2 linked regions of the Homo sapiens genome follow. The protein of the gene in region 1 interacts with the protein of each later gene in a pairwise test. Each region holds a gene or a part of one and is shown on either strand. Other genes may lie near its edges.

Region 1 (3,689 bases):
TGCCACCGCACTAAGCCTGGGTGACAGTGATATCCTTCCTGTCTCAAAAAAAAAAAAAAAAAAAAAAAAGGAAAATAGGGAGGTAGGAAGATACCTCCGTTTCTCCTGATTTATTTGTGGCCGGGAGCTCATTCTAAGTAAAGTAAACATGTAGTCTCACCTGGGAACGCACTGGGTGGTACAGTCCAGTTCACTCTGCTGTGACTGTTCCCCTGCCCTCAGACCCGGAGGCTCAAGGAGCAGCCACTACTAAAACCCAATTTATTCAAGCACACATCAACCCTCCCATGTCACAAAAGTCTCTGCAGTGGCTCACCCACTGCTTCCACCAGTTCCTCTTATGCTCCTTTTAACCAGTTGAGGTGACCCAAGATGATTTCTGTAGGACTTGCCAGGTGAGTTGGGGACAGACAGAGAAAGATTTGCTCTTTAAAGCAGACACTAGGTGGTGTTTAGTGTAGGCCAAAGTGGGACCGTGAGCAGTAATTTGGGGTTGAGGGGATCTTACTTGGAAAAGAGGCAAATGAGGGATGGGATGTAACTCAACCAGAGCACTTACCAACACATCCCCTCCCTGGCAATGCTGGAGGAAGCGTAAGGCCAAGGAAACAAGAGACACGGTTCCATTAAGCGACAAAAAACCAGGGCTACAATCTAGACTTCTTACACTACAGAGCCTAATACATAGATATAATTTATGAGACAACCTCAATATTTTTCAATTGAACACATTTATTGAGCACCTACAATGTGCCAGCATCTTTTACAAGGATAATACTCCAAACGAGTCAGGATCCTCCAGAGAGTATTGGAAGCCCTTCTGGATGAGGAAGATGCTACTGGAATGGCCAGGAATGGAAGGGAAGGCTTTGGTAAATGTGTTCCTGTGATTCCCTCTCCGTGGAGGGACTGCCATTTCCATGTGGTCTACAGTGGGCATCCTCTCCCTGCTCACCTGATGCTATGGGAACATTTTGCATTTCTTGCTTTCAAATGTTGTCTATGATGTCCTTTAGGGTCACTCAGTTTGGTAGATTGGACTGTGATGAGGGCGGGTCCAGAGTTGTACTCTAAAGCAGTCCTAGGCGAGCATGTGAGCACACTGAAATAAGGACACTGATTAGGGAGAAAGAAGGAGCCAGCCCTCGGCCATTAGCCTTTTTTTTTTTTTTTTTTTTTTTTTTTTGCCTCACTGACTTTTGTTACTGATGAACTTGCTTCCCTGTTCATTGGAGGTGGTATCATCACCTCTGAATTATTTTTCTCCTTCTTCCTAATGTTTGCAGGTTGCTTTTCCTCATCAGCTATTGACTGAATCACATTTCTGGGCAGAAGGTGGAGTGCTGGTGGCTTTCCAGGAATCAGCTCTGCAGAAAGAAGCTCCTTCCTGTTCTGAGCCCTGTGGTTCTGAAGTCATTGGTCTAACCTGAGTAGCCCACTTTTTTGGCATGACACACCACAGCAGCATTAGGCGGGAGACTTAGAATTTTTGTTGTTGACTGGAGCTGGGATGTTGAATCAACCTCAGGCAGCAGCCTAGCTCAAGGGATAATAAACTATGACCCTTGGGCCAAATCTGGCCCACCAGCTGTTCTTGTAAATAAAGTTTTATTGGCTGGGAATGGTGGCTCATGCCTGTAATCCCAGTGCTTTGGGAGGCCAAGGTGGGTGGATCACGAAGTCAGGAGTTTGAGACCAACCTGGCCAACATGGTGAAACTCTGTCTCTACTAAAAATACAAAAAATTAGCCAGGCATTGTGGTGCGCACCTGTAGTCGCAGCTACTTGGGAGGCTGAGGCAGGAGAATGGCTTGAACCCAGGAGGCAGAGCTTGCAGTGAGCTGAGATTGCGCCATTGCACTCCAGCCTGGGCAACAGAGCAAGACCCCGTCTCAAATAAAAAAAAAATAAAGCTTTATTGGAACTCAGCCATTCCCATTCATTAACATATTACTCATGGCTGCTTTCATACTACAGTGGCAGAGTTGAGTAGCTGCAAGAGACCATATGACTGGCAAAGCCTAAAATACTTATTATCTAGCCCTTTTCAGAAAGTTTGCTTACTCCTTATCCTGAATTAGGAGACTATATTTTTAAAAATTTAAATTAGAGCAGAATATTACATTACAATTCTGAGTGTTAGAGAGTCCAGAATGCTTGGGGCAAGGCCTAAGGCTGTCATTACAAGGATGGCAAAGACTTGAAGCTTCAGCTGAAGACTGATGGTTGGTAACTGCTGCCTGGAGGGTCGTGTTGGAAAGGACTCTGAGGCTGTGTCTGGGCTGGCGTGGGCATTTCCAGAGAGATGAACACTGTGCCATGATTAATTCAAGGAGCACCAGCCTGGGAATTGAGCTTGGCAAACCCATGCTGTTCTTCCTCAAAGGTAAATAGTATCCAGGGACAGCTTGGCACTGCCCCCGATGCCAGCCTTTGGCATTGCTGAGGTTGGGGCTGTAAACAAACATACTCTTACTGAGGTGAGAGGGAGGTGAGATTCAAATACCATTCACGGTGTGACAGTAGCAGATAACAGGCAGGAAAAGCCAAGGTTGCTGGGCTCCAGCGTTAATTAAAGCTCCCATGCAATCATGTGAGGCTGGCAGTGCACTGGTGTTTGTTCAGGAGAGCGTTTCAGGTAAAGTTTCCCGTTTTGGGGAGAACAGCATTATTAATCTGTGTGATCAAAATGCTGGCTAAAATGTTCCAAATCATTTAAAAATGAGAAACATAGGATGCGTGACCCAGCATGGTCACTGCAGAAAGCAGTATACAGTGCGGCTCTTGTCATTTGAATATAGTCCTTAGACTGTGGTTTTTGAAAGTTGAAGGATCTTAAGACTACCTACCCATGATGTCTAATGGCCTATAATTCTGTAATCCCAACAAATGCTCTTCCTCAGTGATCCAAATAAATTCAGGTAGTGGAGTGGTCTTCAGAAGCCCCTCATCCATTCCAGTGAAATGTGCTGTTGAAAAGGTGTATGCAAATCTACTTTCTGGAACTCACATATTTTAAATGCACCAAGAGTCTGTTACTCATGCTAAATCTTTATGAAACACATTAGCAACTTTTGTATAAATCCAGATTTGCAGGTGTTGCATGGCTTCAAGATGAGGAATTACCTGTAGTCTGATATACGTTTACTTCTCAAGCTGACTTTTTCCATTATAAGCAGTGCTTAAACATCCCTAGGGCCACTGTTCTCTGGTAATGTAAATATATATGGAGAATCCAGTAAGGTGTGCGTTACGTTATTATGCAGTAATCCCTCATACAAGTCACTTACTATCTCTCCCACATTCAACGTTTTGGCCTTAATTGATTTGCCTTCATACCATGGAAAAATTGCCAAATTGGTTCTGGCTGACTAGGTTTTCTTTTCATTTCAAATAATTATATAAGCCATTTAAATTGTATAAACCCACTAAACCATACCTCAAATGCTGAATATTCAAAAAATATATTTTATGACAAGTTTGTTGAGAATTTATTTGCATAAAAATGCCAGTATTTTTCTGCTGTGTCTCTAGAGATATACCACCCCCCAGCTAAGAGTGGGTGGTAGGCAAATGTGCTACGGGCTCCTGGGAAATGGATCATGAAGAATGTGGTGTGCTCAGTGGCCAGAGGGGCAGTGGGGCCTGAGTCTGTGTCTCTGAGTTTGTGTGTTTCGAGAACAAGAGCA
Region 2 (3,600 bases), on another chromosome or scaffold:
ACCGCGCCCGGCCTCCCCCACCCCCGTTTTTTTTTGACATACTGCCACCCAGAAACACTAGTATGTTCAATAAATACTTGATGTGTTAAAAACATGTAACCCTTTTTCTTGAAGTAGATGTTACTTTGAGTTGAACTCAAAGCTAAAATACAAAACACCATTTAAAACATTTAATAACTTTTATTAGCAACATAAAAGAAGGCACAACACGTATCCACTTGCCCGAAAAAAAAAATAGTGTTGCAAAGGAAAACAAAAGTAATGAAACAGCACTGGACAATTGTCAAAGAAGAGCCCCAGTTAACGGCTTCTACCACTGGATTTTATATTTTTGGAACATAATCTTTATAGCCACGGAAGGAGGTTTAGCTGTTTTTCCACAGCTCATAAATGATGAAGTTATTTATCTTCATTAATGTGTGTTGGGCTTTATTTTCCTACATGCTCAATATAGTTGGTAGATCTGTTTTGATATTACTGAGCACTGCTTTGTGCCAGACACAATTCTGGGGATACAGCAATGAGCAAAACAGTTTACTAAGTCCCTGCTTTTAAAAATTTTACATTTCTGGTGGTGAGGATACTGACAAATAAGGTCTGGAAGTTGTAACTGTTATGAAGAAATAAAAGCAGGTGAAGAGTTAAAGCAATGGTGCAGGTGTACTTTTTTTGGATACAGTGGTCTGGGCAGCCCTCTGAGAAGGGACCTGAAATATGCATCGAACATCGAGGAGTTAAAAAAAATCTGGAGGAAATGTTCTGCCAGAGAAATCGGCAAGCACAAAGGCCCGAAGTGGTTCGAGCCTGCGTGCTGTGGTACAAGCCAGAGGTGAACGAGGCGAGGCAGAAGCACGATCATAAATACATGTATGGATGTTCTCCTGGCTTGAGACCACAGTGCTAAGGGAGGTGGGGTTTACAAATCTCTCAGGAGGCCACAAAGGGCAGGATGAAGCCGATTTCCAATGGCGGAGCTACGAGGACGCCTTTCCTCTGCTAGGGCCAGGTTGGACGGTTGCAAGGGATGGACTGCAACCCGCCCTCGGAAGACCAAACTTCGCCCAGGGGCAGGGACTGGCCGGGGAGGGCCTCGGCGGCGCCCGACCCGCGGGCGCTGCACGGGCCGCGGTTACCAGCAGGCGGTGTAGTGAGCGCGCCTGCAGCAGCAGCAACAGCAGCAGCAGCGGTCGCCGCCGCCGCCGCCGCCCGCCAGTCCCAACGAGGAGAAAGGAGGGGACCGGAAGGAGCCGCTGGTGCTGCGGGAAGTGGCAGGAGCGGGAGGCGGGGACCCACCTGGAAGCGCCGCGGCGCCGCTATCGAGCTTCCTGCAGCGGTGGCCACCCGAGCAAGTGCCGTGGCGGGGGCGGAGAGCGGCCACGGCGGCGGCGCCTCCCCAAGTGGCCCGTTGCGTCCGACCCCGCGTGAAAGGTGAGCAAGAGCTCGGGACACGTGGTGAGGGCCAGACACGGGGGAGGGAGAATGAAGGGGGAGGGAATGGGGGTGGGAAACGATCGGCTTGGGACCCGGATTTGGAGCCAAGTACCGGGAGGGGGTGGGCTGGAGGCGACGACTGCGACGGCTGCGACGGCTGCGACGGCGAAGCCCCCACGTGGGGCGGGGGTGCGCGCGCACGTGTGCGCGGGCGAAAGGGGGGGCGGGGAGGGCTTTTGGGAGGGCGTCGGGAGCGCGCTCGCTCAGTAGCGGCCCACGTGACGGGCACGCCGAAAATGTTTCCACGTGACAGGGAGGCTGCCTGGGGCAGCGCACTGCGCTCTGTTTATGTAGTATAATCGTGGTAATCGGAGGTTTTTAAGATTTCTGCTTTTCTGTACAAGGGGAAAGGAGGAGACGTATAAAGCGGAAAGACTTCCTACTGTCTCAGTGTTTTAAATGTTCACTACTCCGTTAGTGAAGTGCTTTTTAAGTTCCGAAATACTGATTTTTTTCTGTACCGCCATGTTGGGTCTAGTGGAAGCTCGCGAGATGCGAGTGGGTTTGTATCGCGAGATCTCTCGATTCTCGCGGGACCTCGTTGGCAGAGCAGTTGTCCTGGATGGCGGAGCCTTGGGTTCCGGGGGCCTGGGACCTGCAACTCTTTCTACAAGGCAAGTCGTTAGGGAGGGGCCCGGGGCGAGTGCCTCTTGGTGCCGGGATACGTGCTGCATCAGCTTCCCATAGTCTTGAAGGGAATACAGTAACCCCATTGAGGCAACACTGCCCTCCCCATCCCCCTGCGGGCGCTCCACCACCTGCAAAAGCATATGCACCCCTCAGCCAGGTCCTTCTCCCCACGCAGTGATAGTTCCACCCTGTCCCACTCACTGGAAGTCCGGGAGCCGTGCTCGCGCAGACCTGATGATTCCATTGGATACCGTTCCTCTTACTTTAAGATGTTCTTGTCAGTTTTTCCCTTCTTGCCATTTTCTAAAGTATTCCAGACCGGTTAACTATTGTGTCGCGTTTTCTGCTGCAGTACCTGACTCCAGTCTCCTGAAACAGAACTCCTCCCATCTATTTTCTCTGGGTGTCATTTACTCATCACCCTGACTTCGTATTTTCAGTAACTTTTGGCAGTATTTGGAGGGCCCATTATGTCTCTGACAACACCTGTGGTCAGAATAAAATCCTGCTTTTCATCATTTTGTACGTGCCTATTAACTCAGTTATCGGTAGGGTTTTAATTACTACTGTGTTACTGAGGTTGCCATCTTTGAAGTTTAGGGATGGTTGTTTTAGGTTATATATTTAAGGTAACAGACTGTTTCATGTGATTTTTTTTTTTTTTTTTTTGAGACGGAGTCTCGCTCTTGTCGCCTAGGCTGGAGTGTAGTGGGGCGATCTCGGCTCATTGCAACCTCCGCCTCCCGGGTTCAAGCGATTCTCCTGCCTCAGCCTCTCGAGTATCGAGTAGCTGGGATTACAGTCGCGCTTCACCACGCCCGGCTAATTTTTGTGTTTTTAGTAGAGACGGGGTTTCACCATGTTGGCCAGGCTGGTCTCAAACTCCTGACCTCAAGTGATCCACCTGCCTTGGCCTCTCAAAGTGCTGGGATTTCAGCACTGTACAGGCGTGAGCCACCGCGCCCGGCCTCAGGTCAACTTTTTAGTAAAGAGCAAACTCATAAATTTTGGCATCAGAGTTTGAGCTTTATTTTTCTTAAATGAGTTTGAAATCAATTTAATATTTCTCTCCAATTCCCTAATGTCTCAGAAGTGAATTTACAGTATACCTTTGTTTTTTCGTATTCTTAAGTAGTATTTGGATTTTATTTAGTAGTTGCAGTACTAAATAAGGAGTGGGGAGTTAATTACAAAACGAATCAGGTGACTAGTTAATTTATTCATAGTTTGTTTTTTAAAACTACAAAAGTGTTTTTTTTTCCTATACATAATACAGAGAGGTATATAGTATAGAGTAACACAGTGCTTGTTTCACGGTACCACAAAGTTCCATTCCTCAGTCTTAAATCTCTGTAACCAGCCTTTGTGGTTGCTGTGTATCATTCCAGATATTTCCATATTTTGGTTTAGTTTTTGTTTCTTAAATGAAGGGGAGAAAGTGTTGTTTTAATGGGGTACCAACACAATATTGGCAATCAG

What was found. The genes of interacting proteins can lie anywhere in the genome.
Region 2: the proteins of FAM124A (region 1) and ZZZ3 interact in binary tests that used the Homo sapiens proteins (3 or more experiments, as listed by UniProt).

What each region holds. Positions count from the first base shown.
Region 1 is NC_000013.11:51,281,265-51,284,953, reverse strand, and holds the end of FAM124A (protein FAM124A), read right to left. Parts: 3' UTR 715-3,689; downstream 1-714.
Region 2 is NC_000001.11:77,681,090-77,684,689, reverse strand, and holds the start of ZZZ3 (ZZ-type zinc finger-containing protein 3), read left to right. Parts: upstream 1-2,031; 5' UTR 2,032-2,105; intron 2,106-3,600.